Homo sapiens: one gene and its partners. The protein of the gene in region 4 purifies or fractionates together with the protein of the main gene of each other region. This does not show direct contact. Each region holds a gene or a part of one and is shown on either strand. Other genes may lie near its edges.

Region 1 (4,138 bases), on a different chromosome or scaffold from region 4:
CGCCGACCTTGGCCTCTCACAGTGTTGGGATGACAGGTGTGAGCCACTGTACCCAGCTGAAACTCTGCTTTCCTGCTTGTAAGCACTCTGCTTCTACAACCTCCTCATCCTCTCCTGGCTTCTGGCAACACCACCCTTTTTTTTTTTTTTTTTTTGAGACGGAGTCTTACTCTGTCTCCCAGGTTGGAGTGCAGTGCCGCGATCTCTGTTCACTGCAAACTCCGCCTCCCAGGTTCACGCCATTCTCCTGCCTCAGCCTCCCGAGTAGCTGGGACTACAGGCACCCACCACAGCGCCCGGCTAATTTTTTTTGTATTTTTCAGTAGACACAGGGTTTCCCTGTGCTAGCCAGGATGGTCTCGATCTCCTGACCTGGAACATCACCCTTTTGCAGACGAAGAAACAAGGAGGAAATGCCTGGCCCAAAATCACACAGCAAGAAGCTGCCAAGTCAGGGCTTGAACCTTGGCTTGTTTTAACTTCCAAGTCTGTCTTCTAACTACTACACTACTACAACCTGTGGGTCCTAAAAACACAGAACAACTTCCAACTTCATACAAGTTTTGCATATCACTCCTAGAACATAACATCAGAAACTGAAAGGTAAAAAAGACCCCTAAGCCCCATCACCTTAATAGAAGTTTTCTTTTCTTTTCTTTTCTTTTTTTCTGAGACAGAGTCTCGCTCTGTCGCCGAGGCTGGGCACGATCTCGGCTCACAACAACCTCCACCTCCCAGGTTCAAGTGATCCTCCCATCTCAGCCTCCCAAGTAGCTACAGGCACATGCCACCACGCCCGGCTAATTCTTGTATTTTTAATAGAGACGGAGTTTTGCCATGTTGGCTAGGCTGGTCTCAAACTCCTGACCTCAAGTGATCCGCCCGCCTCGGCCTCCCAAAGTGTGGGGATTACAGGCGTGAGCCACTGTGCCCTGCCGAGGTTTTATCTCTGTGCCCCCACGGCACCCAGCTTGTTGCCTGATACGTGTGAGGCTTTACCTAAAGTCTCACTGAACACTACGCTTGCATCTGTTCTGTTTCAGCAAAAGGAGTTTAAAGGAAGAGATCCTAGAATTACAAAATCTGGCAAGTTTTTTGTTACAAAAGCAAATGTACACAAGAGAAAGAAGTTAATGTTCCTTCTGCACTTGACGCCGAGGCGGCAGAGTCTCCAGAAGTGCTGATGACTGAGGCCCAGGACCGGCCCCGGCTGAGCCCCCATCAGCTACTCTAAGTTAAACACTCAGGACTCCAGCCACTCCTAAAGCTGCCGCCTCTGCCCAGCAAGAGGACAAGAGCAGAGCTTCAAGAACTTCCCTTTGAAGAGGCTCTCTTCACTAGTCCCGGGACACAGTCAGGAAAGGGAAGGCAAACCTTTTCCCCTCTCTATAAAAGGTTTGCTTACTGTTAAAATATTAAACATCACACATATCATTGAGTATCTCAATGTTTGTTTTTTAGGTAAGCAACTGACTCGGTGCAGAGTGAGCGCATACTGCAGGCTGCTCATTTCTCAGAACTCTCTTGATGGCACAAATTCTTCTACAAATGGTCTTTCCAGTAACTGTTGTCAGCTCAAGAGCCATCGGCTGTGCCAGTTAACAAGCGCTGTGGCTCTTCAGGCGGCCAGTGCTCAGCAGCAAATTGGAGAAATCCCAAACTCCTCCATTTCTTTTTTTTTTTTCCTTGAAACTTTAAAATCCTTCAAAATCTGTTTATTATACAGGTGAATTTTGATAGTCACGATGGGCTTATCGGTAGGATTTCTAGTAGCGAGCACAGGCACCAGGGCTTCTAAACTTTTTGGACTCGCAGGGACGGGGATCAGCTACCAGCAGGGTCCGGTCATACAGGATGAGGATGTCTTTGATCTCCTTCTTGGAAGCCTCATCCATATACTTCTGGTAATAGGCCACCAGGGCTTTGGAGATGGACTGACGGGTAGCATAAATCTGGGCCACATGACCACCACCCTCCACACGGACACGAATGTCCACACCAGCAAATCGCTCCTTGCTGAGAAGCAAAACTGGCTCCAGCAGCTTGTACTGTAGCGTGGGCGGCTCAATCTTCTCCAGGGGCCGCCCGTTCACCTTGATGAGACCATTGCCGCGTTTGCAGTGTGCCACAGCTGTGGCTGTCTTCTTGTGTCCAAAGACCCGCACCGATTGCCTCCTCCATTTCTTTATTTGTGGTTTGCAGGTATTTTTGTGTGCACCATAGGCTTGAATTTGCCACCCAATTCCTATGTGCCCTTTTTTTTTTTACACAGTCTTGCTTTGTCACCCAGGTTGGAGTGCCGTTGCGTGAGCAGGGCTCATCGCAGCCTGGTGCTCCTGGGCTCAAGTGATCGTCTTGCCTCAGCCCCCTGAGCAGCTGGGACCACAGGCACATGCCACCATACCTGGCTACTTATTATATTTTTTGCAGAGATGGAGTCTTGCTATGTTGCCCAAGCTGGTCTGAAACTCCTGGCCTGAAACAATCTTCTTCCCATCTTGGCCTCCCAAAGTACTGGGACTATAGGTATGAGCCATGCTGCCTGGCCCTTATGAGCCCTTTCAAAAGAAGTTTTTATATCTGCATATATGGAGCAGAGGTCCCTGGGGGTGGTGGGTCTTGAGACCCATGAACAGAAGGGACAGGCCAGAGTGAGGGGCACAAGACCCATTACGCCATGTGTTCCTGTTGTATTCTGAGCTTGGTTACACCTCCCTCCATGAAAGCCTGTCCACAAAGGCATAGAGAAATCCACTCATGGAAAGAAGGGGGCCTTGATAAAGCCACAGGTGAACCGCCCCAAGATGCACAAAGAGAGCCGCCAACCATGGCTCTGCTCGCTTTGCCACAGGTGTGGTGCTGGTCACATTTGGTGCTTTTCCTTCAGGGGAGGACCCAACATCCCAATATTGACACCAGGAGTCTGCAACAGCCAGCCAGCATCAAAGATCCGCGTGTATGCGCACTGAGGCACGGAGGACAGTCAATTAATGGAGGCCGGTAGAATCCATGGTCTTTTAGGGTATACAAGACAAAAAAGCATTTGTTCATTCAACAATTGCCAAGTTTTTGCTGTCTGATGGGCACTTGTACAAGGTACTAAGGATTTGGAAATGAAAATAACATTCTTTTTTTTTTTTTTTTTGAGACGGAGTCTCACTCTGTTGCCCAGGCTGGACTGCAGTGGTGTGATCTCAGCTCACTGCAACCTCCGCCTCCTGGGTTCAAGCGATTCTGCTGCCTCAGCCTCCTGAGTAGCTGGGATTACAGGCGTGCGCCACCATGCCTTGCCAATTTTTTGTATTTTTAGTAGAGACAGGGTTTCACCATGCTGGCCAGGCTGGTCTCAAACTCTTGACCTTGTGATCCACCCGCCTCAGCCTCCCAAAGTGCATGCTGGGATTACAGGCATGAGCCACCACGCCTGGCCGATGATAACATTCTTAATCCAAGGAGTTCACAGTCCCTGAACACTTGCATGCACTGTAATTGCTGTGACGGATGCTAAATAAAGTATGGCAAGATTCAGGAGAAGACAGGAATTAATTGCGTGTGTGAGACAGCGAGCAAGACAGGGAGATGGCCCGGGAGGGTGATGGGGGGAGGTGACATGGGAAGCCGGTCTTGAATGACTCATTAGTTGGGACAGGAAGGACATTACAGGATCCTGGAGACAGACTGTGTATGGGGAGCAGCGAGTCATTCCGAGTGGCAGTGCAGAGAATGAGCCAGGAAAGGCGCAGACCCTGGGCCCATGTCATCAAGGCGCTGGATGTTGCACCAAGAAGGGAGCTCGGGGTGTGTCCCAATGGGCAGTGATGCTGGGTGAGGGTGACTGGTTTTGTTTAATCCTTTATCTAGGACATTATCTTTTTTGAGAGACGGGTACACAGTAAATATTTGAAAATGTCTAATTCAATGGATCCTGTGGATGAAATGCCCAAACACCAGTAATTTTTTTTTTTTTTTTTGAGACGGCATCTCGCTCTATCACTCAGGCTGGAGTGCAGCCCGATCTTGGCTCAATGCAACCTCCGGCCCCCAGGTTCAAGTAAGTGATTCTCCTGCCTCAGCCTCCCAAGTAGCTGAGGAGTACAGATGCCCGCCACCACACCCAGCTAATTTTTTGTATTTTTAG
Region 2 (3,509 bases), on a different chromosome or scaffold from region 4:
CTGGGATTACAGGCGTGAGCCACAGCGCCCAGCCAATACTTTTTTTTTTTTTTTTTTTTTTTTGAGACGGAGTCTTGCTCTGTCGCCCAGGCTGGAGTGCAGTGGCGCTATCTCGGCTCACTGCAGCCTCCTCCTCCTCCTCCCGGGTTCACGCCATTCTCCTGCCTCAGCCTCCCGAGTAGCTGGGACTACAGGCGCCCGCCACCACGCCCGGCTAATTTTTTTGTATTTTTAATAGAGACGGGGTTTTACCACGTTAGCCAGGATGGTCTCCATCTCCTGACTTCGTGATCCGTCCGCCTTGACCTCCCAAAGTGCTGGGATTACAGGCATGAGCCACCGCACCTGGCCAATACTTTGTTTCTTAGTAAGAGGCCAGCTGCTGCTAAAACAAGGATTTACCCTCCAGTATGAGGAGCCCAGCTTGGTCCCCCTGAGGAATCAGGTGACCTCAGCTGTAGTGGCCTTAGGCACATCCAACTAGTGTAAGCCAGGTGTGATTAGGATCGTGGCATCTCCTATTTTGGCACAAGGATGATTCCGCTTTAGGATCCCAGAGATAATTCTATTTTTTAATGTAGTTTCTCAGCAAAGACAGTTCTTGAAATTGCCTTTCCAGTTTTCCATAGGTTGACAGTGATTTCCCATTTTTGTCAACTCTTTGAGTTTGCGATTCCACATTTTTTTCAGAAGTAATCTTCCAATTCCATAAATAAATGAAAACCAAACCACACAGCTGGAAATCAAGTTTTGTTTTTATATGAACAGAAGTAGACCATCTAGAAATATTTCAGTTTATTTAAATTGTTAAGTAGAATATGAAACCGAATTTGTAGCTAGTACCAGAGAATGGACTTAACTGTTTGGTGTTTAATGAGAACAGCTTCTACACAGGATCCCAAGAGACTTACAGAAAAGGGGCAAAGCCCTAATATTAAGCAAATAAAACTCATGTTTCAAACAGATTATACAAAAATTGATTTATACTTCATTTCCCTTTTTTGATATTTAGAAAGTGCAGATTTAACAAAAGGTAGCCATATCCTTTCTATGTACAATGCCGATTATAATTATGCAAAACTGTCAGTCTGTTATCCAAAAATCCCAGTGTTTAGCTCTCCAACCTTAAGTCATGGAATTGAATAAGAATTAAAGAGGGTTAAAATAAAAAAGCTAATGCCACATTCCAGATAAAGGGAAGCAACAAATACATTAATCTAACAACAGTAGGTTTAACCTAAACTTTTCAAAAAGCTTAACATCATTTCATTATATTTTTAGTGGAAAATTAGGGATTATTTGGCAATGCTGCTTTTTACTAGTAGTAAACAATGATAAAGTCAAGTGTGGGAATAACCTAAGAATAACAACCAGTGAGGCATATAAAATTGTTTTTAGGGCACTATCTGAAAAATTTGTGGATTTTCATAGCAGATACGTCCCTATGTTGTTTGCTTATGTGAGCCAAGAGGTCATTAAAATGCTATTCACGACACAGAAAGACTTCTCAATGGAAGCTGCTGTCCTAAACTCAGCCTCTGCTAGAAATGAATCATGCTATTCACAATTCTTTCAACAAAGGTATCATCTTAGGATGCTAGCAGCATAGCAAACTTCACTTACCCTATCCTAATGATAAGCAATGAAGCAAAACTAGAAAAAATGCAGTGAAAAAAGGACAGGGTTAGAGATAGCTAAAGATCTTATCTTTACATGAAAAGCCTTTCGTTGTCCTTTTTCCAAACCCATGGTAATACAAGTTTTCCAAAAGGATGTAAAGACAGGACTTAAAATTAATAATATTCTAAAGTATTTCTGAATCTTAAGGTAAAGAAACTTAACACTGAAAAAGTGTTCTTCAGAGGCCAAATCTCAATACATTTGGCAAACATGTTAATAAAATTCACTCCTCCTTCCTGCTTTTCCTTTTTTAAAAAAACAACCTGTACTAGGCTACCAAGCTGCTAGAGGAGTTGCCAAAATGCAGACTACTCAAATTTAGGTTAAGAGATTTATTCTAGGAAAGTGAATAGGCTATACACCTAATTAGAAAGACAAACCACAACACCCTCCAAACACTAGTGCATGCAGTTAACTCTTCCATTTCATAAACTCAATGGATAGACAGGAAGGGAACAAAGAGAGGAGGAAAAGCAGAACATAGAAGTAAAACAGCAAATGAAGGCATCTGGGACACATTTTAGGGAAGAGAGCAAATGAGGGGGGAAGACACCAATTAACTGACATTGGATAGTAGGCAGTTAGAACTTATCTTTCCGTTTACCTAGCAAGTTACATCAGTGCTTTATATTAAACTTGACAAACCTACTAGTTTGTCCCTTTCACTCTTAAATATACCATGAGGTGGTTGGGGAGGGAGAAGCAAATAAAGCAGCATGCAGGGAGACGCAAGGAAGAAGTGGCCAAGGAGAAGAAATGGTGGCAGGAATAGTTTTAAATATCAAGGCCACTTAAAACAAGACTCAGCAAACCAAAGCTATCACTTCTGCATTACCCTTTGTCCTCAATTAACTACTTTGAAAATTACAGCCAAGCAAACCACAAACATTTTAATGGTTTATGTTTGGATGATATGTCTCCTGCACATGCTTCCACCAGAACAAAAAAGGAAAACCAAAGAAGTTCCTTTCCACATAAGGCACAGGACAAAATTAATCCCATTTACATATTCAAGGCGAAAATGAGTGTTTTCCTGGCTTTTGTTTGTTTCTTTTGCTATCACATGTCTATAGATTATAGGGACTCAAGCACATTATCCATGACAGAAAATTCCACTGTTGTACAAAATAAAATTGTTAATTCTAACTTTATTCTTATACAATTTGCAGAATAGATTTGAAATGATTGCTATAGGTTTTAATGTTGATAAGAACTGGACTATAATACAACTGAAATGCAGTTGAGCTGAGCAAGTACATTTAAAAATGAACTCACAGACATGATTTTTCTATACATTTTTTTGTTTGAAGAAAATTATGATAAAGTCAGCAAGCAGTCACAGATGAAAGAACAAATAAAATAGGTGGCTTGGATAGTTAAGATGAGAAACAAAAATATCTGTTTAGAGTTAAAAATGGACAGAGTGGTTTATTTTGCAGCAAGAAGAGAAAACGGGGTAGTGGATGGCAACTGATGGAACAGGAGAATGCTCAGCAGCATTTGCTCTTCCAGCCTGTCACGCCTCCTCCACTGCTGATATCTACATTTTCACTGTTGGGCTCTTTTACAGGGGTCTGCAACAAACACACAAGGAAAATAACTCATGAAAAAACACTGCCATGGATAAAATCACGATTCAACAGGAATATTCTTATGTCAATTTATACAACAAAATACAACTACAATCACAGGAGATAGGTTTCCCCTCCGTGCAAAGTAAAGATTTGGAAGCTTTGTTTTGATTTTCTTTTTGCCTGCTTCCTCCAAGCTGTGAAATATTGTAGACATTTCCTGGCATGCCTTTATAAAGCTTCTGAAATCTTCTCAGC
Region 3 (4,138 bases), on a different chromosome or scaffold from region 4:
TCTGTAGTAGAAGTTACCCAACAGCTAGCTTACACTATGAAACAAGAGTACTAAAGACTCATTAGGAGTAACTTCTTGTAATTTGCATATACCTATATGTGAATATACACTTTGTACTCTATCTCTTAATATAGCTATATATTATGGTATCCTTCCTTGTAACTAGTGGGTGACCCATGCTTGTCAACCTATATTTAGATAGAAAAGAATATTTAAATAGACATGTCCTGTTCAAAGCTGCCAAACTTAAAATAGTTTTACCTTAAGGACAATTTGGGAGATACTAAGAAATATTATAATGTTATAACGATACCATGTTAGAAAAAAGAAAAGAAGAACAAATACATTACTATACTTCTTGATAAGAAATAAAAATAAAATTGTTGAAATACACTTACTATAATATATACTCAATCATTTAGCCCCCTCTCTTGACCCAGAAAATTTCATAATCTTATATTCAGGCCTGTGAGAATTTTACATAAGTAAAACCGTAGATAAATACAATAAAAAGTAAATCAAGAACTCAAAAACCAACTAGAGACAGGAGAAGCCACCATGAAGGACCTTCTATTTAATCTTTAAGGCCATTCTTTCAATAATCACTCAGTGCCTCTGTATATTAAGGCAAGCTCTGTGCTAGGTTAGCACTAATAGAAGCTTCTCAAAACACTACCACATTCATTATTGCATTTAACCCTTGCAACAATCTTAAAAAGGTGTGTGAAACAAGGATTAGTCTCATTTTACAGATGAAGAGTGTGACAGCAATTAAGTCGTTTGCTCAAAAATCACAAGGCCAGAAAAGAACAAAACCAGCATTAAAACACAAGTCTCCTCACTCCTGGTCTACTACCCACTCCAATGGTCCTAGAAATGGAAACCTCACTTTCTTCTTTTAGAAACAGTAATGGTTTATTCAGGCTGGGCACCTTGGCTCACGCCTGTAATCCTAGCACTTTGGGAGGCCGTGGCAGGCGGATCACGAGGTTAGGAGATCACTGGCTAACACGGTGAAACCCCATCTCTACTAAAAATACAAAAAATGAGCTGGGCATGGTGGTGGGCGCCTGTAGTCCCAGCTACTAGGGAGGCTGAGGCAGGAGAATGGTATGTACCTGGGAGGCAGAGTTTGTAGTGAGCCGAGATCACGCCACTGCACTCCAGCCTGGGCAACAGAGCGAGACTCCGTCTCAATACGAAACAAAACAAAAACAGTAATGGTTTATTCATTTATTTTTGAAACTGTGGCCATAATCTAACTTGAAACAGAACTTTTAGGACTCTATCTTTAGAATGAAAACACTGACATTGATTAACACTTACATTATGATTGAGAGCACACCTTCTCATTTAATGTTGACAACTGTAACTCCCCAAGGTACATTAATACTTCATTTAACAGGTTTGGAACCTGAGGCCAAGAGAGTTCACAGAACTAATCCAAAGTCTCAGAGCTATTAAGTGGCAGGCCAAAACTGGACTCCAAATTCCTCACCCTCTCTACTACACATTGTCCTCAGCAGCTGTACAAATGTTTTGTTTCTTTAGAATGAATTACGTCCCTTATTTGCTAAAAATGAACCTCGGATATCAGCTTTTTAGTCGCTGAAACAATCCAGCTGCTAGTTTCTCTACAGCCTTAACTCTCTAAAATATAGCTCCAAATCTGGAAGGAAATGAAAGAGATTCTCAAACATCTGAAAGTATGGTTACAAAGCCAAGCCATTAAGCTCTCCTTCAGCCAGAACTGATTTAAAAGGTAATTAATAGCTAGGTTATCTATTCCCTCAAGTCATAGAATAACCAGCAAACTGAAAAGAAGAAGAGGGAAAGGATGAAATTACAATAGGTATATACTGATCACCATGACAAGTGACAAGCCAGTGAAATCAACAAAACTGAAAAGTAGTACTATGCATAACAGAAATGTAAAATGACCTCAGTGGAGAAGGTTAAATTATGTTTAATCTCAGTGTCCAGCAAGTAACAGTTATCAAATAAATATTTGCTACATACAAATATGAGTGTTAACGTGTAATACAACACAACAAACGCTTTAGAAAGAGGGTCTGTCGAAAATGAATACAATGTTTTAGTATTTATGTATTTTCAATTACATGGAATCACATATATGCAGCATATCATTCCCTAAATGATGTTAGTTTAAATATTATTACATTCATATTTTTTATTCCTTTCTCCCTTTAAGAGAACTTGTTTTCTGAACTGATCCCATGATCTCAGGATTTATCCAGAAGATCCTTAGCTTTTCTTCTCAAGCTTAATAAACACTAGGTGAAATTGCTAAAAAGCCATTTTTGCCAGCTGAAATAAGGCAGACCTTTTGTCCTCAATTATCTGATAGTATCTATTTCAAGTAGTTTTATACAGCTTTATAACAGACTTGCCTGAATGTAGGAACCCATCCCTCCATCTCCAATTGAACACCTCACCTGACTTTAGGGCATTACCACGCCACCACAGGCCACCTTTTATTTTTATTTTTTTTAAGATTCTGCTTTTGGCCAGGCATGGTGGCTCACGCCTGTAATCCCAGCACTTTGGGAGGCTGAGGCAGGCAGATCACTTGAGGTCAGGAGTTCGAGACCAGCCTCTGCCAAAATGGCAAAACCTCATCTCTACTAAAAATACAAAAATTAGCCTGGCATGGTGGCACATGCCTGTAATCCCAGCTACTCGGGAGGCTGAGGCAGGAGAATGGCTTGAACCTGGGAGGCGGAGGTAGCAGTGAGCCGAGACCGCGCCATTGCACTCTAGCCTGGGTGATAAAGCAAGACTGTCTCAAAAAAGGAAAAAAGAAAAGAAAAGAAAAAGATTCTGCTTTTAAGTTAAAGCTGCCCTAAGAGTGGAGGCTAAAGACAATCTAATGAAGATTCATTATTTTTTCAGAAGAATCAAGTTCAAACGTGTACCAGTCTTCTACTCAGTAACCGAACATTATTTCCTTTGAGTCTATGTATATTTAAAATGCAGTGAACATACAGACGCATACATACATGATTTCACATACATTATCTCATAAATTATATTAGAATATTTTCATTTTCACAATGAAAATTACTCCTTTGAGACTGTACTAATAAAAATATTAGGGACTACGTTTAATTTTTTCCTTTTAAATGTACTGCTATGTGTGCAAAGCTAATAAACAATCATTCTTTATTCTTTTTTTTTTTTTTTTTTGAGATGGAGTCCCACTCTGTCACCAAGCCTGGAATGCAGTGGCACAATTTCGACTCACTGCAACCTCTGCCTCCTGGGTTCATGCAATTCTCGTGCCTCAGCCTCCCAAATAGCTGGGATTACAGGCGTGCACTACCACGCCCAGCTAATTTTTTTATTTTTTAGTAGAGACTGGTTTTCACCACGTTGACCAGGCTGGTCTTGAACTCCTGACCTCAAGTGATCTGCACACCTCGGCCTCCCAAAATGCTGGGATTACAGGCCTGAGCCACTGTGCCCAGCCAACAGTCATTCATTTTCGACGTTTCTTCAAAACTCAAGACATCAAATAAAACATGTTTTAATTAGTAAAATTATATCAATAGGGGAAACATCAGGTCTTTCAAAAAAGCATAAATCAGAAAACAGAACCAGTAATACTGTTTCAGTGCTACTGTTTTCTCCTTTTCAAAGGCATCTCTTGCTAAAGGTAACATCTTTGTAAAAAAGAATTCCACCCTGGAGGTTATCATGGTGCATCTTATGATACAGCCATCCTTTATCTCAGATGCTAGAAACATAGTTGATTTGGAAAAACCAGTGGCTATTGGTGTTTTTTTGACATCTTTTTTATTGTTGTGGTTAGTCCACTCACTATAATCAAACTGTTAGGTCATCATAGATAATTTGCATGAAAGAAGAAAGATACACCCTTTCCTTGCTGGGATAGTAACTACAACCCTGTTGTGTGTAATACAGGCCAACAGTCCTTGCTCATCATCTCCTCTGGGGCCTGCAAATATTCCAGGAAAGATAGTATCATTACTTCCATTTCTTATATAAAACTGTCCATTGTCTCTCCTCACTCCATACCCAAGGTACCAGGCATTAGGAGCTGCAGATGAGAAATGATATCAGAAAGGGAACCATAAATTCATCTTAAAAACTCAAA
Region 4 (4,138 bases):
GAAATGCCCACTCACTGCACAAATATTTATGTTCCAGATATTCCTTTATTAACAGGTAGGAAATGCAGCACTAGAGCCTCGGGTCTTAAAAATGATGTTTTGAACAACAATAACAAAAACTTGAATTCATTATCACTTTTTAACCTACTAAGCAAGTCAAAGAAAAAGAAGAGTTACTGGTCCAACAGATTTTTGGTTTTTTGCCATCTATGATGGAATGCCTTCTTTTAAGTCACCTATTTTAGAAAAACAAATGGGACTAATAAGCATTCTGGCTTTTATAAGGCTACTTTATTTCAAATTCTCTTTCAGCACTGAAGTTAACTGGTTAAATAAATCAAATGAAATTAAAAGATACCTTATATGTTAATAATTCATAATTATACTTTAAAAAATAATTATTTTGTAGATATTGGAATCAAGTTGTCATCTCCCCACTATCATAGGCCTTGTCATCTGAATTTGCTGAGCGTGCCTACTTAGATGAACATGACAGACTCCTTGCTGAAGCCCTGACCCCACCATGGGCTAACACAGACGTTACCATAGCAATCCAAGGGTTCCACATCGTAAAGGCCAGCATCATGTGGGACACAAGAGTGGCTGCTACTGCGCAAAGAACCCAGATGATGTTCTTCCCTGTTTTATCCACCAGGAGCCCAAACACCGGGGACATGGGAGCTGATATGACATATACAACACTGCCCAGAGAACACATAAGACATTTCATGAAATGCAACACAGTCAAACATCAGTTTCAAGAAAGTCTTGAAAATATCAGGCAAAGCAAATCCTAACTCATTTAACATTCTTATAAAATGCTCATCAAAAAATATAAAAAGCAGTTCAAGACTTCTTTGGTTTTCCACTAATTTAAACACAGCCACTCAGGATTCAAGTCCCAATGTAGTCCCAGTTTCGCACTTAAAAAATATTAGGTCACATACATCTTTTTTGCTTCTTTTAACATTTGATTATAAAGACCCATACTTCACATGCAATAGGCACTTACAAAATTAATTTTAAAATACCTGTTAATTGCACTTGCTGCCTGGGAAGAAAATCCAAATTTCTCTGTAAAGAAAACTCTAAAATTAAAAAGACAGAGAAATTAGCACATTAGAGAGAACTACTCTGTTTTCAAAAAATAAAGTTGAATAAAAATAACTCAAGTTTAATCAGCTTCTTTCTTGATATTATTCTCCCACCTTATTTATATTCACCTTCAGGCAATCTGCTAAAGCTTCAGTATTTATATTAATGTTTACTGACTAAATGACATATGATGCATATTTTTTTCCTTTTCTGGTATGCAGTAAGGAATACACACAAATTTTCAGAAAATCAAATATACTACCACAGGGACTTAAGGCTGCTTCTTTTCCTTAAAAGCAGTACTGAATGGGTTCTTTGCTAAATAATAAACAGGGTTCTTGTCTGAAACTATTTAAAAGGACAGCCTGAACTCAAAGGGTATAAACCATACCCTTACACAAACACACTTACATTGCGCTGCTTAAGCAGCTGCCAATGAAAAAGGAGAGAGAAGTAGAAGATAAAGCAAAGAAGAATTTGCTTTGAACCCAGAATTTAAGTCTGGCAGAATTACAGTCCTAATCAATGGAGATGTTCCCAGGCACAGTGCACCAATAAACAGTCTCCATTCTCAGTAAGAGCCTTTCTAACCAAGGAATAAAGAGGGAATGAAAAAGAATACTAGTCTAAAATCAACTATTAAATCAATATTATGAATCAAAAATTATTAGGTATTGACATGGTTTGGCTGTGTCCCCATCCAAAGCTCATCTTGAATTGTAATCCCCGTAATCCCCACCTGTCATGGAAGTGACCCTGTAGAAGGTAATTGAATCATGGGAGTGGTTTCCCCCAAGCTGTTCTCGTGATAGTGAGTGAGTTCTCACGAGATTTGATGATTTTATAAGCAGCTGGCATTTCCCCTGCTGGCACTCATTTCTCTCTCCTGCCACCATGTGAATGAAGAATGTTTGCTTCCCTTTCTGCCATGGTTATAAGTTTCCTGAGGCCTTCCCAGCCCTATGGAACTGTGAGTCAATTAAATCTTTTTCCTTTATAAATTACCCTATCTGGGGCAGTTTTTTATTAGCAGCATGAGAGTGGAGTAATACAGGTATTTCTTCAAAAGAATAATAAAAGTATAAAACCAATACTAAACCTTAAGCTAAAAGAAAATGTATATCCCAGGATCTAAAGTAATTCCTGTGAAAATATAAACTATAACCAGAGAAGCAAGATTTACTGCTTTAAAAACTACATTTATGTGATTGAACTCTCATGATAATTTAGACAAGAAATAATGGAAACATAGAGAATACTCACTTCCCAAGTCCAATAAAAGGGAACACAGCAACATAATAGCAGACACAGATGATAAATATAAGCCACAGGGGTAAGGAGAAGTCCTTTACATCAGTTAATTTAATAACTTCACCTTAGAGAAGAAAGGGAAGACACTATCAGCATAATTTTGCATACCTAAGGAGCTTTCATCTATAGTCAAGATTATTTTTTAAAATCTTGTGATTAATCTTTGCAATTCAACTTAAAAAAATACTTTTCTAGTAAATTACACAAACATCATTTCTGGGATAACTTACAAAGACATAAGAAAAAGCAAAACCTAAGACTAAGACTGGCATCTACCTTTCCTGCTCCTTTCCAAGAATAACCATTTTGCAAATATACAATCGAGAATGTAAATTCTGCCAAAAGATTTAAGGGGAAAAGAAAATACATCTAAAAATTTAGAAAAGTGGAAATCAATTTGGAAATAAAAAATAAAAATCATGTCTTAAGCTCCACCTGGTTTTACAACACTTCATTAGGAACTTAGATCTCATTATAAAATCTCACAAAGGCCGTAATTCCCCTAAGTCCCATTCTTTCATTTAGACTTACCTGTTTTTCCTTGTTCTTTATGAAGGATTCTCTCTGCTCTCTGATCCAAGTAGGCAAGAGCCAAGGCACAGATTAGTGAAAGAATACACGTTATACCCCCTAAATAAAAAAAAAAAAAAAAGAAAAACAGACTTTGAAAAGAGAACCAAACAGAAGGTTCCTAAGGAGAAGTACATTACATAAACAGCAAAAACAGCAACTGAAAGGGATGTCACATAAAGACACGAGAAAAATCTGCAATTACTAAATCGGGACAAAAGAGGAAGAGTACATTCAAATACTCAGCAAACAGTAGTAGCTTTTACTGCATTATTTCACAGTTCAAAGTTAAAGATTAAAAGGAAAAGACTAGAAAAAACTAGTCTAGTCCTGTAATGCAGAATACAGACTGAAGAAAACTGATGAGCAGCTACTGATGTAGTCCTCATTTCTTCATTCAGTCTAAGCACCAATTGTCAATGGACACCAGGGAAAAAATGATGAAGCCAAGTTAGGCTCTTCATCTCTCTTCCTTCCGATGTTTTCCCAGAGTCCACGGCCTTCGCTCCTGCCCTCTGGCAGCCCAAGTGCCCCATCCTCCCAAAGCGCAGTACTCTCAAGCTCTTTCCTGTGAGATCAGCATTTCTCTCTAATACCAATCTCATATCACTACAGAAAATCAGGATAAAGAGTGAATAACGATACACTTCTCAGGAAGAATTTCCAAAAGAAGCTTAATAAAATAAATGAATCTTTAATTCACTGCCCTACCACAGCCCGGTTGAAAATTCGCTGAAATGAGCATCAGTAGACGTGAGCTCTAACGAGCTGAATCACCTTGGACATGGAACACAAGCTCTCTTGGATTCAATTTCCCCAGTTTTAAATAAGAGGATTTGACCTGATGATGGCACAGGTCTTTTCTGGCTCTAAAAGTCTTACTCTAAAATTTCCCATTGTGGAGGAAATTAGATGGAATACTAAGAAGCTTTTAAGAGTAAAAAGGAGGTTTTAAGTAAGGCAAAGGATTTGAGAGGGAGAGTTTGAAAGAATCTTTAAATATGCTTGCCTGCTTAGGATTACCACTCCACTGTCTTCTTTTACCAGGCTGTATCGACCAAGGAATTATAAGGAATAAAACACAGAAAGACAAATACTATGCATATGTGGAATAAAATATATATATATATTTTAAAAACCTGATCTTATAGAAGTAGTGAGT
Region 5 (4,138 bases), on a different chromosome or scaffold from region 4:
AATTGAGCAAAACGTAAATACATCAAGCTTATTTTATTTTATTTTTTTGGAGACAGGGTCTCATTCTGTCACCCAGGCTGGAGTGCAGTGGTGCAATCACAGCTCACTTCAGCCTCAACCTTCCAGGCTCAAGTGATTCTCCCACCTCAGCCTCCCAAGTAGCTGGGACTACAGGCATGCACCACCATGGCTGGCTAATTTTTAATTTTTTATAGAGACGCAGTTTCCCTATGTTGCCCAGACAGATCTCGAACTCCGGGGTTCAAGCGATCCTCCCACCTTGGCCTCCCAGAGTGCTGGAATTATAGGTGTGAGCCACCACACCCAGCTGAGCTTTTTGGGTTGGTTTGTTTGTTGAGACAGAGTCTTGCTCTGTCGCCCAGACTGGAGTGCAGTGGTGTGATCGTGGCTCACTGCAACCCCTGCCTTCTGGGTTCAAGTGATTCTCTTGCCTCATCCACCCGAGTGGCTGGGACTACCAGCATGCACCACCACGCCCAGCTAATTTTTGTATTTTTAGTAGAGATGAGGTCTCACCATGTTGGCCAGGGCTGGTCTTGAACTCCTGGCCTCAAGTGATCCGCCCGCTTTGGTGTCCCAAAGTGCTGGGATTACAGGTGTGAACCACCACGCCCAGCCCCTGCTGAGCTATTTGATAGTTTTGGTACACCAAGAGCAAAATTCTACCAGAAATGTACCTCTTGCTGACATAATTGGAGCTGGGTCCAATCCCTAACAATCAACTCGTTTCTCCCATTCAATCCTCTTCTGTTTTTTCTTTTTTTAGAGATAAGATCTTGCTCTGTTGCCCAGACTTGGAGTGGCACGATCACGGCTCACTGCAGCCTTGAACTCCTGGACTCAAGCGAACCTCCCACCTCAGCTTCTCGAGGAGCTGGGACTAAAGGCATGCACTACCACACCCGGCTAATTTCTTAATTTTTATGTAGAGATGGGTTCTTGCTATGTTGCCTAGACTGCTCTTGAACTCCTGGCCTCCCAGAGTGCTGGGATTACAGGCATGAGCCACTACATCTGCACTTTTTTTCTTTTTTAAAGTGTTGAGGCCAGGGGTGGTGGCTCACGCCTGTAATCCCCGCACTTTGGGAGGCGGAGCAGGCGGATCACCTGAGGTCAGGAGTTCGAGACCAGCCTGGGCAGCAACATGGTGAAACCCCGTCTCTACTAAAAATACAAAAATTAGCCGGGCTTGGTGGTGGGCGCTTGTAATCCCAGCTACTCGAGAAGCTGAGGCAGGTGAATCACTTGAACCTGGGAGGCGGAGGTTGCAGTGAGCCGAGATCACGCCATCGCACTCCAGCCTGGAAACAAGAGCGAGACTCCGTCTCAAAAAAATTAAAGTATTGAGAAACCTACTTCACATTAACAAATAGATTGGAAGACACAGAATTTTGTTACTGTGATGTCTTTGTATTCTTTGAACTCCTGACAAGTTTTATGCCAAACTTCCATTGTGAAAAATTTTTGGTCGTTTCAGTTGACAATTTCAGGTGACAATTCCAGTAATCCTTGAACTTTGTCAAAAACAATGGCTTGGAAACTAGCTTGGTTGCAGAAGGATTTAGTGACCCAGTGTTTGCTTTCTCAAACCCATGCCAGTATTTTGAGTTGTCTCTTTGCTTCCTGCCAGGGAAGTGTTTGGACCTGGGGCAAAGCCCCGTGTTCATATCACAAAGAGAGGGAGGGAGGCCTTCCTTTCCTAGGGGGAGGTTAGGAAGAAAAACCTCTTAGAAGATATGTTCTAGCTTGGGCAACATGGCACCTCTACAAAAAGTACAAAAATTAGCTGGGCATGGGGCACGGTGGCATATGCCTGTAATCCCAGCTACTCAGGAGGCTGAGGCGGGAGGATTGCTTGAGCCTGGGAGGCAGGTTGCAGTGAACTAGGATCATGCTACTGCACTCCAGCCTGGGCAATAGAGTGAGACTCTGTTTCAAAAAAAAAAAAAAGGCGATGAGGCCTGGCGTGGTGGCTCATGCTTGTAATCCTAACACTTTGGGAGGCCGAGGCAGGCAGATCACAAGGTCAGGAGATCGAGACCATCCTGGCTAACACAGTGAAACCCCGTCTCTACTAAAAATACAAAAAATTAGCCAGGTGTGGTGGCATGCACCTGTAATGCCAGCTACTCAGGAGGCTGAGGCAGGAGAATTGCTTGAACCCAGGAGGCAAAGGTTGCAGTGAGCCGAGATCGCACCACTGCACTCCAGCCTGGGTGACAGAGCGAGACTCCGACTCAAAAAAAAAAAAAAAATTAGCCAAGTGTGTGGTGCATGCCTGTAGTCCCAGCTACTGGTGAAGGTGAGGGAAGATCCCTTGAGCCCAGGAGGTTGAGGCTACACTGAGCTATGATCACATCACTGCACTCCAGCCTGGGTGATGGAGTAAGACCCTGTCTCAAAGAATTAAAAAAAGCCGGGCACAGTGGCTCATGCCTGTAATCCCAGCAAATTGGGAGGCCGAAGTGGGTGGATCACCTGAGGTCAGGAATTCAAGACCAGCCTGGCCAACAAGGTGAAACCCCATCTCTACTCAAAATACAAAATTAGCCAAGTGTGGCATATGCCTGTAATCCCAGCTACTTGGGAGGCTGAGGCAGGAGAATCGCTTGAACTTGGGAGGTGGAGGTTGTAATGAGCTGAGATCGTGCCACTGCGCTCCAGCCTGGGCAACAAGAACGAAACTCCATCTCAAAAAAAAGAACTAAAATAATTTTTAATGGCAAATGTGATCTATATTTTATCATAATATCATAATAACAACAAAAAAAACTCTCTGGGTATCCATGTCCTGCTTGGGAGGTATTCATGAACTCCAGGGGCTTGAAGACCCCAGGACTCAGGGTGTTGAAAATATCTCACAATCAGTGCACAGCCGGCACCCCCCTAGAGCAGCATCCTGCCAGATGGCCCACTCGGATCCCATATCAGCCCGGCCCTGCCCATCACCTACCTGGGGGCATCTGGGGCTTAGCCAAGCCTGGAGATGAGGCTGGGGCGGTGGCAGAAGGTCCCTCCAGGGTGACCCTGGGCTCTGGGGCTGACGCGATTCTAGGGGCCGGCTGGGTGGGTGCAGGGCTGTAGGTAGGCGTGGACGCCGGGCCTTTTCCTATGGCCACTGGCGGCGGGATGTCCGCTTCGTCAATGGCATTGCCCTTACGGATGGAGGCGAGCAGGTTTTCCAGTGTCTAAGATAAGGCGTGAGTATTGGTTTGGGAGAAGCCAAGAGCTTGGTGCAGGGCATCGGGGTTGGCGGGGGGTCCCTGTACCCTGCCCTCTGCCCACTTACTTTAAGCCCCCGATCGTAGCGCCGCATCTTGGCGCTGTCTCCAGCTTGTCTGGCGCTTTCAATTGCTGTCTGATAGAGCGCCAGCCTCTCCTGCAAGGTGGTCTCCAGCCCCGGATGAGGGGCCTCAGGCTTCGGCTGTGGGAGGGCAGGGGCACAGTGTGGGTGGTGACCCCACTTGGGATGCCCCTGTTAGCCCCTTCTGCAGTAACAGTCGGCCCCATGTCATCCCTGGACCAGCCTCCCCTGCCCCAGTGAGGCAGAAATCATGGTCCCCATTTCCCAGTGGAGGGAATGGGGTTTCAGAAGCATCATGTCACCCACCTGATATGGGTCACATGGCTGTGAAGGATAAGGGTGGGCCAGGCGCGGTGGCTCACGCCTGTAATCCCAACACTTTGGGAGGCCAAGGCAGGTGGATCACTTGAGGTCAGGACCAGCCTGGCCAACACAGAGAAACACCATCTCTACCAAAAAATACAAAAATTAGCCAGGCGTGGTGGCACACACCTGTAATCCCAGCTACTGGGGAGGCTGAGGTGGGAGGATCCCTTGAACCTGGGAGGCAGAGGTTGTAGTGAGCTGAGATGGCACCACTGCACTCCAGCCTGGGTGACACAGCAAGACTCCATCTCATAAAAAAGGCTAGGTCTTGAACCCCGGGCTGTCCGTTGGGTTGTGGTTCAAGGGAGTGGAGTCATCCAAACTGTACCTGGGCCACAGGAGGTGGGGTCTCTGAAGCCTTCTGCTCCTCTCCAAGGACCTCATTTAGCTCCGCCTGCAGGGACACACAGCCAGGGCAGGATATAAGGGCCTGCTGGATGGGGGCAA
Region 6 (4,138 bases), on a different chromosome or scaffold from region 4:
CAAATGTCAGCAAGGAATTAGAGCAGATGTGGGTTCTATTCTAGCTTTATCGTAAACTAGCATATGATGCTGACAATTTAATAAACCTCTGTGGGCTCAGTAACTACACCTGTAAAATGAGAAAGCTGGATTAGATAATCTCTAAATCATTCAGCTCTAAAAGTCCAAATTCTAACCATTTTATCTCTCAGTTTCCTTTTCTATTCAACCTGGTATTTTCCCTCTCCCTTAGTACTACTGTGATGATAAAATGAGATCAAAGACAAAGTACTTTAATTTTTGTAAATTCAAGGAATCATAAGCCAAATCAGATGATAAAACCAAAATGTCCTCCCAGGTATTTATCAAAAAGTAGTCAATTATAGATTTGCTAATGTAATCCTCTATGTTTGGTTTTAAATTTATTTATGTCTGCAATTCTTAGATACAGCAACTTCATCAATATATTTAGAAAATGCCTACATGTGATGATTTCTTTTTTTTTTTTTTTTGAGACAGAGTCTCGCTCTGTCGCCCAGGCTGGAGTGCAGTGGCGGGATCTCGGCTCACTGCAAGCTCCGCCTCCCGGGTTCACGCCATTCTCCTGCCTCAGCCTCCCAAGCAGCTGGGACTACAGGCGCCCGCCACTACGCCCGGCTAATTTTTTTTTGTATTTTTAGTAGAGACGGGGTTTCACCGTTTTAGCCGGGATGGTCTCGATCTCCTGACCTCGTGATCCGCCCACCTCGGCCTCCCAAAGTGCTGGGATTACAGGCGTGAGCCACCGCGCCCGGCCTACATGTGATGATTTCTATGTATATCTGAAGTTCAATTTTTGGTGAAGCATTACTGAAGCAAGTAAAAATGAACCCTGGGCGTAAAAATGAACCCTGGGCAACAGAATCGTCCATCTAAAGACTATAATCTTAGAAATAAAATATTTTCAACAAATCAGTATTTTTAAAAATGCAAAGACTTGAAAAGACATTTGATGAGACTTTTTACTTTAGAAACATATACTATAGAAGGTTTTTAATAAATAGATTCTTATTTTGTAATTATTTTAAACAATTAAAGTTTAGTTTGGCAAGAAAAAAATCACAGCTTAGTTCCCAATTATTTATCAAAGGTTCTAAAAATCATGATCTGCTTTAAACACACACACACACACACACACACACACACCCCAAAAATTCCAAGCAACATTAGGGACAAAAGTATTAAAGTATTATTTGACTGTAAGGAAAAGGAGATGAAATGAAAAGTTAGATTGAAATACAGTCAATAAAATCTTGTACCTTGGTCCCATTGAATATCTCGTTTACAATAAGTTGACATACTTCTACAGCACCATCCCCATTAAACTCCAAGGCAATAACAGGACCTATAAGCAAACCCAAGAAACATTTTCTTAACACAAATACAAATATATTCTAAATTTAATCTTTTTATTCTTCCCTGAAGAATCTCCAGCATCTTCTTTGAGGGTGAAAGAGAAGGAAGAGGAAAGCAGACAGATGGGACATATCACCTCAGCTGCTTCTTCCTACGCTAATCATAAAACAAATTAACACAGTCTCATAACAAGTAGCTTCAGTACTATTATAGGACTAGTGTCACATTTTTAAAGTGTTGTAAATAGTCTGGCTTTTCTGGTTCTCATTCTTCTATAAAAACCACAGAAATTCTACTCATTTAGGAGTATAAAAATAGTTGATAAAATAGCAAATAAGATCAAAAGCAATCCAAGTCAACATAAGTAGGTTTTGCCAGGCAGCCAGCCTTGCTTCCAACTCTCCTACTTACCAGCCAAGTTCTAGGCCACCAATAATGAAGCTAAGCCAAATAAGAATTGAGGCCAGGCACCAAAAGTGATGACCATCTGAAAGTATTTTCCTTGAGTGTGTCTTAAAGCTACATTCTAGAAACATAGACAAAGTTTTTATTTTTTAATCCTTTTAATAGAATATCTGTGCCTCCTTTCTCATACATTAATTTGAAAACATTAAAAACCTCCTACAGTGATGGAAAAGTCTTGATCTCCAGGAAATTACAAATGTATTGAAAGAAGACATAAACCCATTAAACAAATACAAACCAACACAGAATAATGAAGTACGAAGTAATGAAATACTAGAGTGAATGAATATGAAACACTAAATTGAATGTAACCGTGTGCTGCAGTACAAGGTACAAGAATGAGAAAGAAAAGGTTACACTACATTGGGCATCAAGATAACTGAAGGCTTGTGATTTTTTTTTTCTTGGAGGCTTGTGATATAATACAGGCAACAAATACAGAAAAGGCAGGATATAGTGGTCCCTAGGTATCTGCAAGGATTGGTTCCATTTGTTGCTCAAATCCCTTATATATTAATAAAATGGTATAGTATTTGCATATAACTTATGCACATCCTCCTGTATACTTTATTAAAAATGTATTAAAATTTCTTTTAGAGATAGAATCTCACGGCTGGGCACAGTGGTTCATGCTTGTAATCGTAGAATTTTGGGAGGCCTAGGCAGGAGGATCACAAGCCCTGGAGTTGAAGACCAGCCTAGGCAACAAAGCAAGACCCCGTCTCTACAAAAAATTAAAAAATTAGCTGGGTGCAGGGTCACAGGCCTGTAGTCCCAGCTACTCGAGGGACTGAGATGGAAAGATCACTTGACCCCAGGAGTTTGAGGTTATAGCAAGCCATGATCAAGCCACTGCACTCTAGCCTGGACAACAGAGCGAGACCATGTCTCAAAAAAAAAATAGATATGGGGTCTCACTATGTTGCTCAGTCTGGTCTCAAACTCTTGGCCTCAAGCAATCCTCTTGCCTTCAGCCCTGGCCAGGAGTTCAAGAACATATTGTAATAAAACATCTAACCTTACAAAAGAAAAGCTTAAAATCTTAAATTTTTATTTAGAAATATCAATGTAAACTCATGATCTTTTCCTTTTTAAAAATACATAGTTTCTAGCTATGTCCACTGAAAAAGCTTAAAAGAAATGACAACCCAGTAATACATAGCACCTAACATGTATTTCTAAATATCATTCCCCACTAAAAATAACTAAGTAATCTTAGAAAAATAGATGATTCCATGTCTGGGGCAAGAAATGGATTAAGGTCAATGTGGAATATTTTCTTCAGCCAAAAAGTAATGAAGCTATCAAAGGCCAGTGGGGTTCTATCAAAAGGAGACAGAAGCCAGCCTGAAGGGGCTCCCAATGGCCAAAGATGAGACATAGTGAAACAGAAGGAATAATGACTCTGATTTATTAAAATTAATATATAAAAAGTCATGAGTTCATAATGATACTTAGAGAGATCCTCCTTACTACCAGATATTTTTAAGGAAAATAAAAAAAGAAGAGAGAAACAAAATTCACTGTATACCAATGGAGGTTGCTAGGGCACCAATTCACTACTCTGAAAATTGATGCTTATTTTTCTCTTTATTTATTCTGCTTTTCTGACATGAAGCATATTTCAAGTTAACCAAACAGCTCTGGCATACGAGGAGTTCTGTTAACATCTGTTAATAAATGCAGAGGTAGTGACAAGATTAAAAAGTAAGTTTGCTAAAAAAAAAAAAAAAGAAAGAAAATACAGAAAACAGTCATTTTGCAACGCCTATTAAAACAATTGGTTCAGGCAACAATCATCAATGGTTTTAGCATCCCACAGAGAAGACTGCAGGAAACTCTACAATAAAAAGAGAAGGTCGTCACCGTGTAAACCCAACCATTAAATCTTAGTATCCCTAAAAGTACAACAATCAAACATTATGTGCCTTCTCAATTAATGCAACAGGAAACAGTACCATCTATGTATTCCTGCCAAAAAAAATTAAAAAATAAAAGTAAAAAAATAACTAAACCTGAACGTAAACAAGGCTTTGATCTAACTTCTAGTCTGCAAGAAATATGGAGGAACGAATTAAACAACCTCATAAATACTATAACATAATTGACCAAGCTTCTTTCCCAAGACAAAGGCAAGAAAAAAGTAGTAGAGGGGGAACACCTGTTTTTGATTTAAGAGCGATAGAAGATTAAAAAAAAAAAACCAAATACAGTAAGTGGGTCTATTTTAGATCTGGATCAAATTAACTGTAAAAACACAAAGAATTATTTTAGTAAGTAGGTAAATCTGCATATAGAC
Region 7 (4,138 bases), on a different chromosome or scaffold from region 4:
TCAATAAAGCTGTTTAAAAAGATATTCTAAAACAACTATAATAGCAGTGTACTGTGGAGTATATTTTATATATAGAACTATAATATATAGTAACAATAGCACAAAGCATGGAAAGGGGTAATCGAAATATACTACAGTAAAGTTCTGACATTTTACATGAAATGTAGAATATTATTTGACTATAGACTATAAGTTAAAGATATATATTGTAAACCCTAAAGCCACAACTAAATATTTAAAATAAAGATGTATAGCTAATAAGGGAATAATTACTATGCAATAGATTAATAAAAAATTCTCACTCTGAAAGAGAAAAAAAGAAGAAAAGAACAAACAGAGCAAATAGAAAACAAATAGCAAGATGGTAGGTTTAAACCCAACATTATTGATAATTACATTAAAGGCTGAATATTCCAATTAAAGGCAGAGACTGTCAGATTAGATTTAAAAGTAAGTCCTGGCTAGATGCAGTGGCTCATGCCTGTAATCTTAGCACTTTGGGAGGCCGAGGTGGAAGGACAGCTTGAGGCCAGGAGTTCGAGACCAGCCTGGATTATACGTGAGACTTAATCTCTACAAGAAATAAAAAACAATTAATCAGGCACGGTGGTGTATGCCTGTAGTCCCAACTCCTCAGGGAGGCTGCGCTAGCATGATCATTTGAGCCCAGGATTTTGAGGTTACAGTGAACTATGATTGCACCACTCCATTCCCCTCTGTCTTAAAAAAAAAAAGTCCCTACAATACACCACCTACAAGAAACACACTAAAAAATAAAGATGAACATAGATACAAAGTAAAAGAATGGGAAAAGACATATGCAAACTCTAAAGAAATTTAAGGCCGAGGGCGGTGGCTCATGCCTGTAATCTCAGGACTTTGGGAGGCTGAGGCGGGTGGATCACCTGAGGGCAGGAGTTTGAGACCAGCCTGGCCAACATGGTGAAACCCCATCTCTACTAAAAATACAAAAATTAGCTGGGCGTGGTGGCAGGCACCTGCAATCCCAGCTACTCGAGAGGCTGAGGCAGGAGAATCGCTTGAACCTGGGAGGCAAAGGTTGCAGTGAGCCAAGATCGCGCCATTGAACTCCAGCCTGGGTGACGAGGGAAACTGCATCTCAAAAAAACAGAAAGAAAGAAAGGAAAGAAAGGAAAGAAAGGAAAGAAAGAAAGAAAGAAAGAAAGAAAGAAAGAAAGAAAGAAAGAAAGAAAGAGAAAGAAAAGAAAGAAATTTAAATGGCTGTATTAATATCAAAGTACACTTCAGAAAAAAATATTAACAAATAAAGAGTCATTACATATTAGAAAGGGATCCAATCATTAGGAAGACATAATCCTAAATGTATATGTACTCAATCATAAAGTTTTAAAACATGAAAAGTAAAACTGAAAGAATAGTTAAAGCAGATTTCAACATTCCTCTTTCAGCAAATAATAGGGCAAGCAGACAAAAAAAATTGTCAGAAATAAGACTTGAATAGTGCTGTTGACAAACTTGACCTAATTAATACTTATTGAACAGTTGGTAATTTCAACACTCCTCTCTAAGCAATCCATACATTTAGAGAAAATAAATCAGTAAAGATATAAAATATACAGTAAAGATATAAAAGTGTCTTTTTAAAAAGTCTGTCAGTTGACCTAATTGGTATTTACAGGACACTCCAGCCAACCAAAGCAGAATACACATTGTTTTCAAGTACACTTGAAATTAAAGTAGAAAATGAATTAGTTGGGCGTGGTGGCATGTGTCTGTATTCCTAGCTACTCAGGAGTCTGGGGCAGGAGAATTGCTTGAACTTGGGAGGCAGAGGTTGCAGTGAGCTAAGATTGCACCACTGCACTCCAGTCTGGGCAACAGAGCAAGACTCTGTCTCAAAAAAAAAAAAAGTGGAAAATGAAAAAATCAATAGAGAAAATGAATACAAATGAATACAACCAAAGCAGGTTCTTTGAAAAAATAATAAAATGATAAACTTCTAGTCCAAAGATTGGCTGACATTTTTATAAAGGGTCAGATAAATACTTTAGAATTTACAGGCCATATAATTTATTCAACTTGCAACTACTCAACTCTGCCACTGTAGCATAAAAGCAGGCATACACAATATGTAAATAAATGAGTGTGGCTGTGTTCTAATACACTGTTTACAAAAAACAGGCAGGAGCATGAAAAAAGAGATAGCGAAATAGAGAGATGAGACAGAGAGAGAGAGAGAACACAAATTACCAAAATCAGGAATGAGAAAGAGACAAGACTACAGATCATACAGCCTCCACCATCAGCTAGTCACCCCAGGGAACCCCTACCCCATCCATGGAGTAGGCAAGAATGTAGAAACCACATGAAGCTATGTGCCTTCAGCCTTCAATATTGACATGCATTTATTTATTTAGTAACTAATTTATGTTAACAGGCAAAACAAAAATCCCTGGCCTTGTGGATCTTACCTTCTAAATCAGGGAGATTAAGCATAAACAATGTACATAATACATTTGTAGATTATCCAGTGTGTTAGGAGTTCATAAGAACTGTGAAGAAAGAAGGAAAAGTAGGACAAGGGAGGGAGAATGGAAGTGCTGAGAGTTTAAAATGGTGTGAAGACCCACCCCGGAAGGTCTCATTGAGGAATTACCATTTGAGCAAAGACCTGAAGGAGGTGATAGAGCAAGCCACAGGGAAGGATGTCCTAGGCTGAAGGAATAGCCAAGGCACAGACCCTGAGGCAGAGCCATCCCTGGAACATGGGAACAGCAGAGACCAGAGTTGTTAGAGTGGAGTGAATAAAGGGAAGAGAGGTGGAAAGAGAGATCAGAGCCTACAGGGGAAGCAGTCAGAATAGGGCCTTATGGTCTAAGGTGTGAAATGGCTGGGAAGCCCAGCAGGAGAGGGGTTGCCAACACTGGGGGATGAATAACATATCAACAAAAACTTAGAGGAACAATGGGGCTTCCCACAGAGCTACAATAAGGTCACTCCAAGAGCTGGACCCTCGGGTCCTGGGGTCAAGGAGGAGCTAGCAAGATCCCTCCTCCCTCCTCCCACAAGGACATGAAACCTGGGGGCAGAGGGCACCTACCCGCCCATTCTCTATCTCTCGACAGGCCATCAGGATCACCTAGACAAGGAGGGTCAGGGGAGAGGAAGGTGATTTGGGTGAGGGGGCCAGGGAAACTGCCGAGGGGGTACTTAGATGTTGACCCCACCATTGTGCCGCACCCCCAAGTGCTGACCTTGACCCCAAACTCCCAGACCAGTCTCCAGAAGTCTAGCAGGGTGTGAGGCAAGGGTCCTTGCGTGGCAATGTAGGCCAGGCTTCCATCCACGCCCTGGTGAAGGCCGAATTCACGACTGAGATTCTGCGGCCCACCCCTGGCCACTCCCAGTCCACCTCCTTCCGTGACCCCAACCCTCACCCGGATGAAGTTGCCATTAATGTAGTCGCTGTGTCCCTCTTCCTGGAGCAGGGAGAGGATTACTCGCGTCTGATCATCTGTCAGCAGATAAGGTGAGAAACGTGGAGTTTGGGTAGGATAGGGTGACGGAGCCTCTGACAGCCCCCTAGCTGAAAGCCAGCAGGGGACCACACACATGCAGAGATCCCACCAAGGTGCCCTTGTGGGCTGCTGAGCAGTGCAGAGGGTGAGGCTCTGGGAGGAGAGCACAGTGGGTGACTCCAGTGCACACTGACGCCTGGACGTGGCAGGGCGTGCAAGGCTGCACCGACTCCCTACGGAAGCCCCGACTTACAAGGCAGCACGTCTTTGTAGCGGTTCTTCCTCACGTTCTCTGGCCGACTGCCGGCCACGGTGGAGCACACGCCGTCAGCCTTCCAGGCGGCCGAGCAGGCCTGGATGTCCTGGTAGAGCATTATGAGTGGGTCAGGGAGGGGAGAAGACAGGAGAGGAGCCAGGTCAGAGTCCCAGGCCACCTAGGCACGCTTGCAGGATACAAAGCCAGTGGCCTGGGGAGGTGAGTGCAGACCCTGATGGCACTGGGCCTGCCTAATAATAATGATACCGAAATAGTGACCCAGGGCACCTTCTCTGTGCCACTCTCTGTGCTAAGGGCATGTAATCATCACAGGTTCCTACGACGTGGGTACTATTATTGACGTCCCCATTGTGCAGGCGGG

Evidence for each region.
Region 1: the proteins of MFSD1 (region 4) and ABCA3 purify together in Homo sapiens (affinity purification with mass spectrometry; one large-scale study listed by BioGRID and IntAct). This does not show direct contact.
Region 2: the proteins of MFSD1 (region 4) and RAB10 purify together in Homo sapiens (co-immunoprecipitation; one large-scale study listed by IntAct). This does not show direct contact.
Region 3: the proteins of MFSD1 (region 4) and OSTC purify together in Homo sapiens (affinity purification with mass spectrometry; one large-scale study listed by BioGRID and IntAct). This does not show direct contact.
Region 5: the proteins of MFSD1 (region 4) and CC2D1A purify together in Homo sapiens (affinity purification with mass spectrometry; one large-scale study listed by BioGRID and IntAct). This does not show direct contact.
Region 6: the proteins of MFSD1 (region 4) and RP2 purify together in Homo sapiens (affinity purification with mass spectrometry; one large-scale study listed by BioGRID and IntAct). This does not show direct contact.
Region 7: the proteins of MFSD1 (region 4) and PTPN18 purify together in Homo sapiens (affinity purification with mass spectrometry; one large-scale study listed by BioGRID and IntAct). This does not show direct contact.

Annotation. Positions count from the first base shown.
Region 1 is NC_000016.10:2,330,562-2,334,699, forward strand, and holds part of ABCA3 (phospholipid-transporting ATPase ABCA3), read right to left. Parts: intron 2,173-4,138; exon of another isoform or gene 1,686-2,172; intron 1-1,685. UniProt on the Homo sapiens protein: Catalyzes the ATP-dependent transport of phospholipids such as phosphatidylcholine and phosphoglycerol from the cytoplasm into the lumen side of lamellar bodies, in turn participates in the lamellar bodies biogenesis and homeostasis of pulmonary surfactant.
Region 2 is NC_000002.12:26,134,683-26,138,191, reverse strand, and holds the end of RAB10 (ras-related protein Rab-10), read right to left. Parts: intron 3,255-3,509; coding exon 3,171-3,254; 3' UTR 738-3,170; downstream 1-737. UniProt on the Homo sapiens protein: The small GTPases Rab are key regulators of intracellular membrane trafficking, from the formation of transport vesicles to their fusion with membranes.
Region 3 is NC_000004.12:108,660,287-108,664,424, reverse strand, and holds part of OSTC (oligosaccharyltransferase complex subunit OSTC), read right to left. Parts: intron 1,193-4,138; coding exon of another isoform or gene 1,119-1,192; intron 1-1,118. UniProt on the Homo sapiens protein: Subunit of STT3A-containing oligosaccharyl transferase (OST-A) complex that catalyzes the initial transfer of a defined glycan (Glc(3)Man(9)GlcNAc(2) in eukaryotes) from the lipid carrier dolichol-pyrophosphate to an asparagine residue within an Asn-X-Ser/Thr consensus motif in nascent polypeptide chains, the first step in protein N-glycosylation.
Region 4 is NC_000003.12:158,818,547-158,822,684, reverse strand, and holds part of MFSD1 (lysosomal dipeptide transporter MFSD1), read right to left. Parts: intron 3,037-4,138; coding exon 2,938-3,036; intron 2,471-2,937; coding exon 2,359-2,470; intron 1,089-2,358; coding exon 1,032-1,088; intron 702-1,031; coding exon 545-701; intron 1-544. UniProt on the Homo sapiens protein: Lysosomal dipeptide uniporter that selectively exports lysine, arginine or histidine-containing dipeptides with a net positive charge from the lysosome lumen into the cytosol.
Region 5 is NC_000019.10:13,912,475-13,916,612, reverse strand, and holds part of CC2D1A (coiled-coil and C2 domain-containing protein 1A), read right to left. Parts: intron 4,086-4,138; coding exon 4,020-4,085; intron 3,446-4,019; coding exon 3,311-3,445; intron 3,210-3,310; coding exon 2,975-3,209; intron 1-2,974. UniProt on the Homo sapiens protein: Transcription factor that binds specifically to the DRE (dual repressor element) and represses HTR1A gene transcription in neuronal cells. The combination of calcium and ATP specifically inactivates the binding with FRE.
Region 6 is NC_000023.11:46,874,730-46,878,867, reverse strand, and holds part of RP2 (protein XRP2), read right to left. Parts: intron 1,364-4,138; coding exon 1,278-1,363; intron 1-1,277. UniProt on the Homo sapiens protein: Acts as a GTPase-activating protein (GAP) involved in trafficking between the Golgi and the ciliary membrane.
Region 7 is NC_000002.12:130,358,591-130,362,728, reverse strand, and holds part of PTPN18 (tyrosine-protein phosphatase non-receptor type 18), read right to left. Parts: intron 3,863-4,138; coding exon 3,754-3,862; intron 3,497-3,753; coding exon 3,420-3,496; intron 3,333-3,419; coding exon 3,237-3,332; intron 3,122-3,236; coding exon 3,083-3,121; intron 1-3,082. UniProt on the Homo sapiens protein: Differentially dephosphorylate autophosphorylated tyrosine kinases which are known to be overexpressed in tumor tissues.